2 separate regions of the Homo sapiens genome follow, and region 2 is linked to region 1. A link means that fine-mapping ties the variant in region 1 to the expression of a gene that starts in the linked region. Tissue or cell type: whole blood. Region 1 holds a variant in brackets; the other region holds the start of a gene. All regions are shown on one strand. Distances are between the middles of the regions.

Evidence for each region. PIP is the estimated chance that this variant, and not a neighbour inherited with it, causes the effect.
Region 2: PTP4A3 starts here. The variant in region 1 is fine-mapped to the expression of PTP4A3 in whole blood (TOPMed, PIP 0.96). The same link has a PIP of 0.9 or more in blood mononuclear cells.

Annotation. Positions count from the first base shown.
Region 1 is chr8:141,411,244-141,419,581 of GRCh38, reverse strand. All of the region lies in intron 1 of PTP4A3 (protein tyrosine phosphatase 4A3), which reads right to left. Among named protein-coding and RNA genes, the nearest start is that of ASTILCS, 23 kb to the right of the region's middle. RefSeq lists enhancers at 3,889-4,848, 6,769-7,616, 3,330-8,335. The variant A/C (reference allele first, on the strand shown) is at 4,522.
Region 2 is chr8:141,388,861-141,396,860 of GRCh38, reverse strand. It overlaps PTP4A3 (protein tyrosine phosphatase 4A3), which reads right to left and starts at 4,840. Exons shown (of 6, transcript NM_032611.3): 1 at 4,777-4,840. It overlaps ASTILCS (antisense transcript of PTP4A3, liver carcinoma survival associated), which reads left to right and starts at 4,240. Exons shown (of 2, transcript NR_187488.1): 1 at 4,240-4,453; 2 at 5,710-6,993. RefSeq lists an enhancer at 5,148-5,768.

The sequences.
Region 1 (8,338 bases):
AAAAAAAAAACCGGTGGTGGGGTGGGACCCCCAGAAGGAGGTAAAGGTGGAGACAAGGATACTGTCCCTGGTCCCGCCAGTCCCCACCTTGCCCGACTGGAGGGAGCACAGGCTCTGAGTGTGGGTGAGGGAAGCCACCACGTGCTAACAGCACACAAACACCTGGGTCCCTCTTGGGGCAGCAGGATGTCCCTGTGTGTGTGCACACGGGAGCCGAGCTCATGTTTACAGAAAGAAAGGAAGAAAAGCACCAGAGAAACCACAGTATTGGGCCTCTCCCTGAGGGGCTGACCAACCCCTCACACCTACAGCTGCCAGGGACCCAGGAAGACCCCACAGGCACCAGCACGTGGCCTGGACCTGCTGCCTAGTGGCCCTGCACAGGTCCTCAGGGCTGCAGGCTACTGGGAGGGAGGAGGCTCCGAACCACCCCACACTACCCCCCACTGAAGGCCTAAGGATGCCACACATCTGCCGGAATCAGGGGGTTAGCCTGGGCTACGCTCAGGGGTCACAGCCCAGGCTAGAATGGGGTTAGGGGTCCAGGGAGAGGCTGGACCAGGGTCTTGCCACACATCCCACTTGTCTCTGCAGCCTAGGGCCCCTACCCCTGCCCCAGGTGAGAGCAAAGCAATGATGCCCTGGCACCACTATGTGGCTCTGCCCTGCCTGGTGGCTGTCCCCCAAGGGAGAAAACCCCTCCATAACCACACGCCCCCAGTGAGGTCACCAGGTAGGGCCCTGAGAGCAAGGGTTAAGGATCCCCAGGGATGGGCACTGAGAACTCCCTGAAGCCAAAGCCTCAGGCTTCCCATCTGCGAAATGGGGACAGGTTGCCCCTGCCTCCATGTGTCCTGAGTCGCTACCACCCCCACCAGGCCCGCGGCCCACAGCACGGGGACCCACTGGCAGCCGTGGCCCCTCTTTCCCTCCTGCTACCTCCTTCCCTCCTGCTACCAAGCCCTGCAGAACCCTTCCCAAGATCTGGCTCAGCCTCCTCGGGCCAGCAGGCCCAGAGCCCTCAGCTATTTCTCAAGACCCTTTAAGGGAGAGTCCATCCTTGTCCCTGTTTGCGAGATGAGGAAACAAGCCAGGGAGAGGGGAGAACATTCTCCACCAGGGCCACACCAGGCGTCCAGTTAACTGGGTTCTCTCTGGCTCAAATCTAGGAGGCAGGAACAACACGCAGCGCCCTGCACAGAAGAGGAAATCGAGGTTCAGGGAGGCTACCGCCCTCCTTCCCGATGGCACAGCAGCTTAAGAAGTTTGAATCCAGCCCCCGCTTCAGACAGGGCGCCCCCTGTGATTTTGGGGGAGGAGGCTGGAGGCCCGGGGCTCAGCGGGTCTCAGGAGAAGTAAGCTGCGCCGCGGTCAGGGCTGAGGCGGGCGCTCTGGGGAGTCCCGGGGAACCAGTCGCGGGTGGGGTCGTGGTAAGGGGCGCGGCCCCCTCCCTGGGTGCCAGCGGGGCTCCCGCCCAGCCCTCCGGAGGGCGCCACCTCCTCCCCGGCGGGGCTGGGGTCCCGGAAGGCCTGGGTCCGCCGCGTCCCCACCTGCCAGGCTCACCCGCGCCGCAGGCGTCCCACCGCCTCCATACGCGCCGGCCTGGCGGTGCCCACGGTGCTGGCCCTGGGTCGGGGCGCCGCCCCTCCGCCGCGGAGCCGGCTCCAGGCGCTGCCGCCACCGCCGCCTGCGGCTATTTATAGCGCCCGGGCGTCACGTGGGGGGCGTGACCGGCGGGCGACCCGGCTGCCGGGGGCTCCCACACCTGCCGCCTAAATATAGCCGCGCCCTGCCCGGGAAACAAAGGGGCCGCGCAGGGCGGGCGCGGGGAAGAGGAAGCCCAGCCAGGAAAGGGAAGTGCGGGGCGCGGCGAGGGCCGGGGGCGCTGCCGCCCGGGACCCCTCCTTCCTCCCGCCGGCCGGCCCGGCGCCCTCTCCCGGTGCGCGCCCTCCCTAGAACCTCGGAGCTCCCCCTGGCCCCCTCATGGGGCTGCACGGGCCTGTGGGCTGGGGGTCCGGAGGGCAGGAGCCGCCGGGCCGCGCTCCTGGTGGGGAGGCCTGGACAGAGCGCGCCCAGCTTTGGAAATGGAAATGCGGCCCCGCCGTGCAGGTGCTGTCCTGCACCCTGAGGAGGAGGGCGCCCGAGTCCCTCCAGTTCAGACCCCCTGCCCAGCCCACCAGCCCCACCGCCCGGGCACTCCTCCATGAATTTACTCAGCACCCACCGTGCCAGACACTGCTGTCCCCTCACTTAATCCTCACGACCCCGCTGTGGCTGGCTACGCTGGTCTCTCCTAGCGTACTGGTGAGGAAACTGAGGCACTGCAACGAGGAACACCCTGAGGTAACACCGGCAGGCAGGATTCAGCCAGGCGGCGGGCTCCACAAACTCTGAGGCTCGGCACTGATGCCCCCTCTTCCAGGAAGCCCTCCCAGACCCTCTCAAGCAAACGCCTCCCTGCGACTCCTGGCTCTGCCTCCTGGGAGCATTGTGCCGGGAACTCATGTGCTCCCCAGACTATGAACCCCAGGGATGCAGCTGGCATCACCACCCACTCTGTGCCCGCCCTGGCCACCCAGGGCCCTCAGAGCAGGGTGGAGCGGCAAGGGTGGTACCCCCAGCACAGGGTCCCTGGAGGTGTGGCCCTGCTTGCAGCTCTCAAACAACCTGGTCCCTGCAATCTGAGGTCATCAAGGGGCCCAGCTGAGAGCACGACCCCCCCTCCCCCTGCCAGGCTCTCCCCACCCACACTTCCAGAAAACATCACCATCAGCCTGGCCCAGCTGTGCCGGCAACCCTCGCCTCCTCCCACCTCCAGGTGGGCAAGCAGGCTGGGGAGCAGAGGACAGGAGGGCTGTGCCCAGTCTGAAGGGCCCCATGGGAGCCTCCACCCAAGGGCACACCAAGCCAGGTAGCCCTGCCTGCCAGCTCATGGACCCCCAAGGGTGTGAGCTCCCTGGCAAGGGCACCCACCCACGTGGGTGCACCCAGCTCCACAGGGAGACGCTAGGCTCTGACTCCTGCCCAGTGCTCTCAGCTCACCACTTCCAGCAGCGTCTCCCTGAAGGTTGAAGGCAAGAATGGGTCAGCTTCAGGGACTCTGCCCCACCAATCTCCAACCTCAGCCACTTTCTAAGGATACCAGGCTAGACACTGCATTCCACAAGCAAGACACACACCTGCCACACTGCACTGACAAACCATAACAGCACAGAGAAGCTGAGCAACCCTTCTGAGTCACACAGCCAGAAGGCAGAAAAACCACATTTGGAGCTGGGTCTTGCTGCCCCCGAGACCCTGCTTATCCCCACCCTAGCCCTCTGGGAGAGAGGACCTCTGGGGTAAGCTGCTCCTGCCCCCCAGCCTCAGTTTTCTTATCCATAAAAGGGGTCTCAGAGTGAAAGTTCCCATCAAGCTCTGTGATGCTACAACCAGACAGAGCCCGTCGCCTCTGGCGCTACAAAAGTGGACCCCAGCATCCTCATCACCCCCACCCGGGCTCCACCCCCTTGCCTGGGGCCCTCTGGCCGGGCCTGGGAGGCACCTGCTGCAGCTGGCACAGCCCCAGGCCTTTCGGAGAAGTCTATTTATAACCAGGCAGGAGCCGTTCCTGGAATCCTCCCAGAGCGGGCCCAAGTCCGCCCATTGCTAGGGGGGCCAGGAGGGGAGACCCAAGCAGGCCAAGCCCACGCTTGATGCACTAGGACGCCTTCCCGGAGTCCTCCAGGCCCCTGCACTCGGCAGCTCCAAGGGCCCAGCCTCCTCACTGCCACATCCCCCCATGCCATCCCATCCCCTCTCCCCACCCCACCCCACACCCTCTCCCCACCCCACCCCACACCCTCTCCCCACCCCACCCCACCCCAGTCCCCACCCCACCCCATCCCCTCTCCCCGCCACGCCCCCTACCCTTCACCACCCCTGCCCCCTGCCCCCCCGCCCCGCCCCCTGCCCCCCGCCCTCCGCGCACGTCAAAAGGGCCCACCCGGAGTCATGTGGGAGGCGGGGGCGCGGGGCTGGGCACTCCCCCGAAGGATCCCGGAACGCTCCGGCTGGGGCCTCGAATAGGGACCGGGGCCGCAGGGTCCCAGGGCTGCGGCGGGCACCCTGGTCCCGGCCAGAGGGCAGGAGGGTCCCTCCAGCGCTGGCCTGGGCTCTGGGGCCCACGGGGGACAGGGCGGTCCCTAGGGCCCTGTAACAGCGGGAGCGAGCGGGAGGGGGCGGGAGGGGGATGGCGCACGGAGACCCAGGCCCTGTAGTTGGGGTGGGGAAAGACTGGGGGCTGTCCAGGGCTCCGGCCTGTCTCCCCACTGCCTGCTGCAGGCTGGGAAGAGGGTCCCAGGGCCCGTTCCTTGCCGCGCTGGAGGGAGCCTCACTGCATCCCCACCACTTCCACCTGCCCACACAGAAGGGCCCGGACCCTGCAGCCTGCCCCGGCTTCACTCCCAGGTGGCAGCCCTGGGCTCAGCAGGCCCTCACTTCATCCTGTTGTCCCCATTTCCTCCAGGAGGAAGTGCAGGG[A/C]GACAGGGGAGGCGACTCAGTGGACCCCACCCAGGCCCCCCGCCACCCACACCCAACCCCCACCCCATATACACAACTTCTAACATAGTTCCTTCCGCAGGAAGTGGGAACTCCACCAGTGGAGGAGGGGCTGTTCCTGCAGTCCAGGGCCCGGGTCACTTGCCCCTCCCCCATCAGGATGCTGCCCTAGGCCTGGTGATATCAGGAGGGGGCGGAGCCCTCGTACCTCACCCTGGAAAGGATGAGGGGGCGTCTCTCAGGCCAGCCCAGCCCCCAGGACTCTACCTCCTGGGGCAGAGAGCGGTCACTAAGAAGTCCACCCTTATCCCTGCTCCCCCCAGCCACCAAGACAGCTGCGCCATAACTCACCACCCCCTGCCTAGGCACCCGATCCACCTGTGCCAGTCTGGGGCTGCCCAACAGTCCCTACCCCCCCCCCAGTCCAGGGCTCTTCCCAAGCTCAGTGCCCGCATTCTCCTCAGCCACCTGCCCGAACCTCTCCTGCTCCTCAAGACCCCGGCCAGGTGCAGAGACTCACACACCTGCCACCAGGCTGCTGCTCCCACGTGCCCTCTGTCTGGCTGCCCTTCTCTCTCCCTACCGGGCCACCTCTTCCAGCCTCCCAGTGAGTGAACCTCCCCTGCCCCAGCCACCTTCCACCACTACAGTCCCAGAAGCCAGGTCTACCCACCAGGCTGGGCCCCCAGACCCTAGGGCCACACTCGGCCCCTTTTGATCTCCCCATGGGAGGATACAAATCTCAGGGGATTATTGTACACAAATGGCCTAATGTCCAGCGAGTGGACAGGACAGCTCCACAATGGCAGGCCAAGTCGGTGGCTCAGACAGGACTCCCAGTCCAGTGCTCATGCCTTACCTCCCAGGATGACTGAGAAGCCAGTGTGGAAACCGCCCAATGGGAAGCTCTGGCAAGCACACACACTGACCTGCATACACAGAGATGTGTGCTCACGTGCACACACACACACACACACACACGCCACAGAAACAGATGACCAGATCAGATGCCTGTGCCGGGAAGATGGGGACCCCATTGCCCCGCAGCAGTCCAGCCCCACGACGCCCACCAGAGCCTCCAGGGACACCGTGAGCCCGAATCCTCCATGTCCTCCTGTCCACACAGCATCTTTACACCAAGAGCCCTGAATCCTCCATGTCCTCCTGTCCATACCGCATCTTTCATCTTGCCTGGAAGGCCTCTGCCCAGGCTGGAAGGAGGATGGCACAGCCACACCAGCTGTGGACCAGTCACTGCCCTCCCTGCGGCAACCCTGACCCATCTTGGAACAGACACAGCTGGACTCCTGAGTGTTTCCAAAGCCATGGCGTCTGTAACATGCAGGTTCCCAGGCCACACCCAGACCAGGTGCCCCACTCACATGCGCACACGTGGCCCCACCTTGCCCTGGGCAGGAGGGAGCCGTGTTCTGACGGCCCTAACCCTCCCTGCCCCCAGCCTCCCACCCCAGAGCTCTGTTATAACACACCTGCCAGCAGCAGCTTCCGTTAAGAGCCAGTCGCTCTGGAGTACGGGGTGTTGGGTCGGAAATTGTGCGGCTCCAGGATTCCAGACAGGAGGAAGCCCACATGAAGCCTGCCCTGGCCCTGGCATTAGGCCTGCATGCCCACGGTCCTGCTGCCTTCCTCCTGGGCCCCATTTAGCCAGTGCCATGCCACCCACATCCAAGGCCCCTGAAGGCCAGTACCCAGAAGTGGGCATGGTGTCCCGGAGGGCATGGAGTTTCATTCGGAGCTCACAGCCTCTGAGAAGGAGCCTCTCCCCGCCCCAGTCCCTGAGGCCCTGCCAAGAATGCAGAGGCCCCCAGCAGGCCCAGAGGAGGCCCCTGATCTGGCCTCCCGGAGAGTTCAGGGCCTCCCTGGCACACCAGGCACAGCCCCTACCCCTTCTGTGCCACACACCAGTGGACCCTCAGCAGACACAGCTGACTCCAGGGCAGGAACCGACCCCCAAGCTCTCCAAGGGTCCGCATGGCCTGATGGTCCCTCCTGCTGGCCGGAGGAGGCTGCCCAGGAAGGTCCTCACCCACCAGCATCAGCCAGAGGCCCCAAAGTGGTCCACAACAGGGGAAGGGCATGAGGCCAGCCCTGAGCCCACTGGGCCTGGCTAAGCCTCCACCCCAGGTGCCCCCTGGGAACTGCAAAACCGTCCCGTGCATGCTGTGTGCCTCTGGGCCCCTCTCCTGAGCTCCCAGACCTTGTTAGTCACCCACACAACATGAGAATTATGAACCCATCACCAGATGAGAATACACAGGAACTGCCCCTGGCAGTGCCCACAGAGTTGTCACAGAGGCTGAGAGGGCAGGGTGGGCAGTGGGCGAGCTCGCTGTGGGAGGGCTCAAGCTAAGCCTGCTCTGCAGAAAGGATCCAGAGTTTGGCTGAATTCCATGTGCCTGCCTGGATGGAGCCAGGCCTTGGGCCCACAGGGCCTCTCCACGGAGAAGAGGCCATGGCTCCTCCTCGGGACCCCTGGACCATCCAGGGGACAGGGCCCTGAGGGCCATGAGCATGCAGCCAGCACTAGGCAGGCAGGCAGCCCCTGCTTGCTGTTCCTGGCATGCCTGACCCCAAACCCAGGAGCAGACTCACACCCCACCCAGCACCTTCACGGGAACAGGAGTTCTGCCCTCTAGCAGGGGAGCCAATCCCTCACGCCCACCCAGCCACCCATGCTCACTTGGGAGGTGGGGAGCTGGGCCGGCCTGTTCCTCCACAGTGGGACCCTGTCAGCAGGGTGTCCAGGAAGCTTGTGGTCCCTGAGGGTGGCTGGACCTTGGGGCCACTTCCACCATACCCAGACGCCCTGGACAGGGCAGCAGGCATGTACACCTCTGCTGTGTCACAGAAAAGGAAGAGCCCACGCTTAGCCACTGCCCAGCGCAGCACCCCCATATACCCATGACGCCCCTCCCTGAACCCAGTGTCCAGTCCCATGGAAGGCGGAGAAGGCCCAAGAACCCCTCTGTGTAGTGGCCTCGCGTGGTGCCCTCAGCACAGGCAATGCCCATGTCCATCCTCAGAGCAGTCCTGGAAGGCGCCCATCACCCCATTTTGTGGATGAGTAAACCGAGGCTCAGGCTGTGCAGTCAGCGAGAGCTCTGAGAGGCTGAGACAGGATTCAGGGCCTACCCAGGGTGGGCACTTTCTCTGCATTTTCTTCTTAAAACAGCCAAGCCCTACACTCCATGTCAGCCCCAGCAGGCGCGGTCACCCTGTGCTCAGTCCCTGGGATCCCTTCCTCTGTGCCACCCAGGGCCCGTGGGGTCGGGGACAGGAAGGGGGATCGAGATCATGGAGCTAGCCAGGGCCACTGGCCGAGGCTCTAGTGGACGCACGTCAGAGGGGCCTGAGGAACCGCGGGAAAGAGCTCTGACCTGGCCTCGGGAGGCCACGTCCAAAATAGCCAGCCCTGCACGGTGAGGGGACTCAGCCGGCATGCACGTAGGCCTCTTGGCCCCAAGCGCTGCCAAGCTGGCTGCGGAAGGTCACAGCTATTTCTGGGCTGGCCCGATGGTGAGACGCAGCCTGGCACCCCCAGAGCCAGTGCACACGGCGCCACTGAGGCCCAGGGGGATAGGGCTACCCCCAGGACACATGGTGGAGGGGCTGGAGGGGCCCGCAGGTTCCCCATGGTGCCTAGATCCTACTGGGGGGACCAGTGCTGATGGCCTTTCCTCTCTGAGCCAGCTCCCTCCCAAAAAGCACGTGCAGTGCTATGAGTGGATTGGTTTCATAGTCACATCACTGGCTTTTACAGGCCACCACCATATGCCAA
Region 2 (8,000 bases), 23 kb after region 1:
GTGCACTCAGGACCCGCACGTCAGCTTGTCGGCTCCACACATGCAGCCCCTCGGGTTATGCGTGGTCTTGTCCCACGTGAGAAGGGAACACTGAGACTCAGAAGGTGACATGACCAAGCTGGCGTGGCCAAGCTAGCCCTTCCCGAGGCCACCGTCTCCCCACCCTGTAGCCCCCATCCCCACCTCATCTCTTCCTGGCCAAATCATCAGCGGTGCCCTTTGTCCCCCGTGTGCCTGTGGTGCAGCTGCTCCACTTGGCGCCAGCTCCTCGGGGCAGGGCTCGGGACTGTCCTGTTCCCAGTGGGCCAGAGCAGGCACACAGTAGGTGCTCCAGGGCTGTGGGCTCGGTGAGAGAGGAATGCTGGACGGGCTGCCCGGGGCCAGATTCCATACCACCTGATGACCTGGAGCTGCTCACCCCACTGGCACCATCACCCAAATGACCAGCACCCTCCCCTGCCCATTTACTGACCTTTCCCCAAAAAGGAGGCATGGCCAGCGTTCAAATTCCTGCTCTCCTCCCAGCAGTGACCCTGGCACGTCACTTCTCCCCTAGGGTCCTTCCCTGGCTCTAGGGCAGGACGGTAATATGAACACTTACCCGCCAGAGGTCTCAATCCTCTAGGATGAAGGGAGTTAAAATGCATCAAGTTTTACGTATGAGTCCATCACGGTCCTGACCAATGGCACCCACAGCCCAGATAATGGGGCCGGTTCTGGCTGTACCGCAATCACCAGGCACTGCCAAGGAGCCCCACCTTCACATGGCACGGGGTTACAGTCACGGCAGGGGTGGGGGTTACACATCAGGTTAGGCCTGCTTCCTCTGAGCCAGTGGCAGGGTTGGCGGGGGCAGGTGGCCAGGACAGGGTGGGAGAGGGGAGGCAGCCCCATCTGTCCCCAGCCAGGGTGGCCCTTGGCAGGCAACAGCAATGACTGTGCTGCATTTCCACTCCTTCTAGAAGCATAAGCCCTGACATGAGGGCACCCCTACATCTGGGGAAGACACCAGGAGAGGAGCCGGGGGGCATGGGAGCACCCCTACATCCCGGGAAGATGCCAGGAGAGGAGCCAGGGGACATCCCCACTGGGTAGATGAACGGGGGCTGCAGGAGGGAGGGGTGGCCCACGCACCTACCCCGGGTAGATGAACGGGGGCTGCAGGAGGGAGGGGTGGCCCACGCACCTTCCCCAGGTAGATGAACGGGGGCTGCAGGAGGGAGGGGTGGCCCATGCACCTATCCTGGGTAGATGAACGGGGGCTGCAGGAGGGAGGGGTGGCCCACGCACCTAAGGGGAAGTGGGGGTGCACTGGGCAATGGCCCCCAGTTCCCCTCCAGGAGGAAGGTAAACCTGAGGGCCCACTCTCAGGACCCCAGCTGAGCCCTGAGCCATGTGGTCATCCCTGACCCTCAGTTCCGCTTCCAAACCAGGAGGCTGCCACTAAAGCAGCCCAAGACTGAGTGGCACGTGCCTGGCGGGAAGCGATGCCCCACCTAGGGGTCCTTAGGGCCACACCCTTGGCTGGGAGGAACAGCCTGTCCTTATTTTCTGAACTGTCTTTTGTACAACAGCCTTGGCGCAGCTCAAAGGATAAGTGAGGTTCTCAGGGTCCTGACCTGAGGCGCCCCAAGGAGGGGAGACACGCGCACACTCTCTGCCAGGTGAACGCCTACTGGGCCATCGGAACCCACAGCTCGTGCCCCACCCACACTGGCACGGGCTGTGTCCACGTAGCCCTGATCCCGCTCGGCTAAAGAGCGCAGCTCTCAGCTGCCGTAGGTAGCTGCCAGGACCCTCCACCCTCTGCTCAGGCTCCTGGGTGGAAGGAAGCACCCGTCCCTGTCCCCGTCCCACCTTGGGGAGGCCCCCCTCTCTCCAGGGAGGCTGGCCTACCCGACTGGCAGGCGTGGGGCACACTCTGGGCCGCCCCCAACCGCACACACCCAACTCGCGGGGCGCCGAAGTCAGGCGGCGGCGATGCCAACCCGACCACGTAACTGTGCGAAGTGCAGTACCTCCTCCTGCAGCCCACAGCCACTCCCACCCAACTCTGAACTGTGCAGAGAGGACGGGGCTCATCGGCCCTCGGACCTTGCCCAGGTCCCTGCCTATGGGTCCTGCGAGCCGGTCCAGGTCAGAAGGAGGGATGGGAAGTCTTTTTTACCTCACACATGTTCACCCGTGTGACCAAGCTTCACCACTGTCCTGCCAGGAAGACCTGTCATTGCTCCCATTTTACAGGTGTGGAAACGGAGGGGCAAGAAACCAAGTATCCAGCAAGACACTGGGAGGCCAGGCCCTCCTGCCTCTAGCCCAGCCTCGGGCTGCTGCACTTGCTAGGAAACACCACTGCAGGCAGGGAGGGGTGCCAGGGACCAGAGGGAGTAGGTGACAGCAAGGGCGGCCAGGGTGGAGGTGGGGAGAAACGGTGCTCTCGAGGTGAGAAAGCGCCCTGGGGTGGTCTGGGACAGTGACCATCTGGTTACAGCCTTTGGTCAGATTTGGGACCTTCATGGAACAAGGCAAGCCCAAGGTCTTGGGGGGCGAAAAATCACCACTATCTGCCAGCCCCAGGCCCAGGAGCTCCCAGCTCAGCCCCTCTGGCCAAATGCCACCTGGACACCAGCCTGGTACACTTTCCACTTAACTCACCCTTTCGCCAGGACCTGCCAACCAGGGAGAGGCCTCCCCAAGCTGTATCACCGCCATCTGGATGTAAGTCCCTAAGGAGGTCACGTGCATAGGCATTGGGCACCAGCGGACACTCTGCCCACCCTGGCGGTGAGAGGGAGGGCTCACACCAGCTTATGCCCCCCTCTCAGTCTGACTGTGTGCACCTCTGCCCAAGTCCTCAGCCAGTAAAGTCACGTCTGTGTAGCTTGGGAGTAGTTACACCACAGAAATTGGCCAATGCCAATTCAGGATTTGGTTAAGCATCTGTTAAGCATGCCCTCATGTCATCTTTGAGCCCAGCCACCCATGGTGCCTCCAAGACCTCCTCGCCATCCAAACTGCCCACTTGTCTGAGAAAGCTGCCCACCTCCCGGCCTTCCTCCTGCCTCCCATGTCCAGTGCCTGACTGCATCAGCCAGCCACCCTCACCATGTTCTGGGCTGTTACTTGGGACAGAGAGGGGACCAGCTGAGGCCCCCAGCCTTACTCCAGTGGTCAGCGCAAGCTTCCGGGAGGAGGGCAAAGGCAGAGAGGAGCAGGCAGCTGAGGAAACCACCTGGAGGCTGCATCTCATCCCCGCCTGCATTTTCTCCCATCACGCCGACTGCCTGCGGGGGCCTGTCCGCAACCTGCCCCGCTCAGCCAGCCAGCCATGCCCCATCTCCAGGTCCAGCATTGGGCCTGGCACAGAGTAAGTGCTTGGAGAACACGTTGGGGGTGTTGAGGGGTGACCAGCTCCCTAGCGGGGCTATTTGGAAACAGCCCAGGAATTCCTACACAGGGCAGCTTCTCCTCCTTCGTAACCACAGTGAGGGGGGCCGGCGTGGTGATGGGGAGATCCCCAATGCCTAATTCCACTCAGGTGACAGGTTCGGGGCCCATTTACAGCAGCTCCAACGCCCCCTTTGCAGATGGGGACAACAAGGCTCTGCTTAGCCCCGCAGGCTAGGGGCTGCACCAACTCCACCTTTGTGGGCCTCAGTCTCCTCATCTGAGAAATGGGGTTAACGAACTTCTTGGGAGGATTGCAGGAACTCAGTGAAGCACGGCTCTGCACAGGGCTGCCAGGCGGCTTCTGTCTGTGCAAGGCCACAGGCACCCTGTGTTCAGTGACCTCCTCTGGTCTGCAGCCGAGGACACTGCTCCAACCTGGGAGCAGGGCCCCCAGGGTCCACAGACTAGGTGGATGCCCAACACCCACCATCGTGTGCGGGGCACACCCCAGAGCCCGCAGGCAGAGAGAGGGGGTGCAGCACGTGCCTTTCTGTCTTGGCTGAGGGTGCCCGGGCACACACTGTGACCAGCTAGCCTGGACCTCACGCTGCCCTTGGAGCCGCTATCACAGAGGGCCAGGGAAGCCTCCCTCATAAAGGGCTTCCCTCCGGGAACCGGCAGGGTGAAACTGCTCTGCCCACTTGGAGCTAAGCATGCCACCACCCCACCCCTGGGCCACCAGCTGCCCAGGGGCGTGTCAGGAGTCACCCGTTTAATCCCTGAGGCACGTGGATCAAGGCTGCTGACCTGATTCTACCGGGGTGTGCTTGGAGGGCTGAGGCGCCGCCCGAGTCCCAACACTGGTATGGTCTGAGGCGGACTCCACCCGGCCTGAGACCTGACGCTCTGCTTTCCCCTGACCTCCACTGACATCTACGACCCGCCCTGGAGGCACGGAAGGCTGTGGGGTTCCAGCCCCCCAAACTGTGCAGCTGAGGAAAATGAGCCGTGAATGGGGGCAGAGCCAGATCCTGGGCGGGACCCTGCGCAGGATGAACTCAGGGTAGGAGGTCTCCCGCGCACCCAGAAACGGGAGCGGGTCACCCCCTTCCAGCCAGGGGTGTTCTGTGGCTCGCCTGGGGAAACAGCGGCCTCCTGAGGCTCGGCCCCGGCACGTGGCAGCCTCCAGGCCCACGTTCCCGCCGGATCGGCCGCCAGGCGCAGGGTCCCGGGACGCGCGGGCAGGGGGAAGGCGGCGGCCCTCCCGGCTGCGCGGCCCCGAAGCCGTGCCCGGAGCGGGCGGCGGGCTCGCGCGCGGACGGCCCCCCACGCGCCTCCACAAAGCGCCGCGCGCCCCCGCCCCGAGCGGGCGCGGAGGAGACTGACCTGGCGGTCCGGGCGGCGCCGGCACGACGGGTGGAGGGCTCGGGACGCGCGCGCCCTCGCGCACAGGCGCGGCCGCGGCTCCACCGGCTTAGGGCGCGCGCCGGACCCGCTGGGTCACGTGGGGGCACGGCCCAATGGGAGCGCTCCCCACGCCGCGGCCGCGCGCCCGCCGCCCCCGAGGCCGCCCCTGGGCTGGGAGGAGGCGGCTCCGGTCGCGCGGGCGGCCTCGGGGACTGACCTTGGCTCCTGTGCCTGCCGGGCGCCTAGGCCAGGTCGGCCTGGGGCAGGCGGGCGTCGGAGGGGCAGTTTTGAAGCCCGAGCGAAGAGGCAGAGGGCGGGATGCGGACGAAGCCAGGGAGTTCACGAAACTTCTGGAGTTCTCAGTTTCCCCCTAAGTCGACTGGGGCTAGGTCCCGTGCCGCCAGGCGGGCTGGCTGAGGGGATGGGCTGGGGCGACAAGACGGCAGCCGCCTGGCCCGGGTACTTGGGGTCAGACCGGCTTCGAGGCCCCCGGACCGCCGTGTTATCAGGACGGGTAGGGAGCCCACGGGACGCGTGGTGCTCAGAAGAGCGGGGAGGCGTGTGGACGGGGCCTGCCCGAGCTGCACCACCGCCTGCCTCCAGGCTGCGAGGCCCGCCCAGGCGAAGGCGGCATCTCAGCCTCTAGCCCTTGGGGACCTTGAGGACGTCCTCTTATGGGTCAGCCGTTCCTAGGGAGGCTTGTGGCTCCAGTTACTGGAAAAACCAGTGCTGGTTCACGCAGGAGGCCCCAGTACAGGGGGAAACAGAGGCAAGCTGGGGTCTCCCAGGCGGCCTCACCCACCCAGCCCTGTTCCATGCCAGTCCCTGGACCCTTGGCCCAGTCAGATGTTCAACTGCTCCAGCCCTGCCTCCACTTCCCTGAAAGATGCTTTTCCACCCATCCACCCTCAGCAGCCAGAGGGACCCCGGGAAGATGGGAGTGAGAGCTGCCTTCGTCTGCAAAAGTCTCCAGACACCACCTCACTGGTGAAGGCCAGAGACCCTAAACTGTCCCAAGACCACCTGACTGGGCTGCCTCCCTGCCACCTGGCTGCCAGCCTCTCTCAGAGCGCCTGCAAGCTATTCCTCCAACCCAGAGTTTCCTTCCCAGCTAAAGGCCTTTGCACCTGCTGTTCCTTCTGCCTGGAAGTTCACCGCAGACTATCCCAGGGCCTCCATCCTTCCCATTGCATGGTCCCCATCAGCTGCCGCCGCCTCTGAGAGCTCAGTCTCCACTGGCCATCCTGTCTCTCAGCCCACTGCACTCTCCACTCTGCCAGAAAGTCCCCCAATCAGTGACAACACAGGTCACGGTCCACACCTCACCTGGTTTGTCCCCAGTGCCCAGCATCTGGCACCGAGCAGGTGCGTGCAAATCCTGGACAGGTGGGCAAGCTGATGGTGTCCAGAGGCCCCTGGTCCTTAAGGGCAGGGGTGGGGATGGCTCAGAGGACATAACCTTGCAGACCCGGGTTCAAATCTGGGCTCCTCAGCTCATTTGGTCCTCACACAGCCCATGTTGGGAGAGCTAGTGTTCTCCCTGTTTTGCTGATGAGACACAGAGAAGGTCAGCAACTCCCGAAGATTGCCCAGCAAGTTGGGAGTAAAGCTGGTGCAATTCCCACGTTTAGCTGCTAAACAGGGTGTCCTGTACTTGGTGTGTTCAAGCAGAAATCCACACATGGGAAGGTCAAGGCAACATCCCTGGTACTCCAGCTTTGAGGTCCTAGGAAAAAGGGAACCTCCCATTAAATGCTTCTATTGCCGGGAAGTTCAGCACCTGTAAAAGCAGCCCCTTCCCGTTTCACTGTGGCTGCATTTTAATTCTTATTTTTTAAATGTTTAGCTTAAGGCCGGGCACAGTGACTCACACTATAATCCCAGCAATTTGGGAGGCTGAGGCGGGAGGATCACTTGAGCCTAGGAATTCAAGACCAGCCTAGGTAACATAGTGGGACCCTATCTCTACAAAAAATAAAAAATTAGCCAGTCATGGTGGCATGCTCCTATAGTCCCAGCTTGGAGATTGAGGTGGGAGGATCACCTGAGCCTAAGAGGACAAGGCTAGAGTAAGCCCTGATCCCGCCAGCACCCCAGCCTAAGTGAAAGAGCGAGAGCCTGTCTCAAAAAAGATAAAAAAAAAAAAAGCATTAATAAATAAATGTTTGGCTTCATCTAGCCTGAGCAGCACCAACACCCCCTGCCTGTTTCATGCTATTTTCCTCCTCTCCTGCCCAAAATCTCAGAGAGGTTTCTATCCCAGCCACCCAAATTTGCTGGGGTGAGTGGGCTCCCGAGAGGCTGGAGCCTCCTTCCTCCCCACGCTCTTACCATCCTGCAGGGAGTCGGGAGCAAAGGAGGAGGCTCCTCCATGCTGGATTCATTTCAGTTCTCAGACATTCACCGAGTGCTGACCACATGCCAGGGACTTACACCCACCCACCAAGTCCACACTGAGCCCTGCAGAGGAATCCCTGACACCCCCATTTTGCAGATTAGGAAGCAGAAGCTAAGCGAAAGCAGAATCAAGATTCAAACCCAGGCACGGTGAAACCAGAGCTGTCCAACTGCTGTGAGTGGAATGGGCCGGGCATGAACAGGCTTGGGGAGAATCCTGGGATTTCATAGCCGGAAGAGAGCTCAAAGTGATCGTGTTTTACAGAGGAGAAAACGGGGCCTCAGAGATGATGGCTGAGCCGTGAAAAGGTGGGGTCAGAAGCCAGGCCCAGTCTCCTGAATTCCAGACTCCAGAATCTCCCCCAGGATTGAGGAATGTTCCACAGAAAGAATCCCAGCTCCACCTACCCCAGTCACTGGACCTGCCCAGCCCTGGAGGCATGGCCAGGAGGAGGCCCCCGCAGGTGGGGGATTGTTGGAGAGGGATGCCAACCATGCAGGACGATCTAGACAGTGGTGAGGCCCACTGGGGCTGGCAGGATTAGCAGATTAGCTCCAAGGAGGACAAAGACGAGGTCAGCGTTAAGTGGATTTCTGGAAAGCCTCCTCCAGCCCAGCAGGGCCCTACAGGAGGGGCCCAGGCTGGGGGACCTAGATCCAGCCACGGAGGGCATGGGTGGGCTAATGGCACCAGCAGCAGCTCTTGAGCCCCCATCACTGGGCTGCACACTTTGACCTCTCCTGGCCTCAGTTTCCCCATCTATAAATGTCATAGTAATAGCTCCAACCTCACAGGGCTCTTGGGA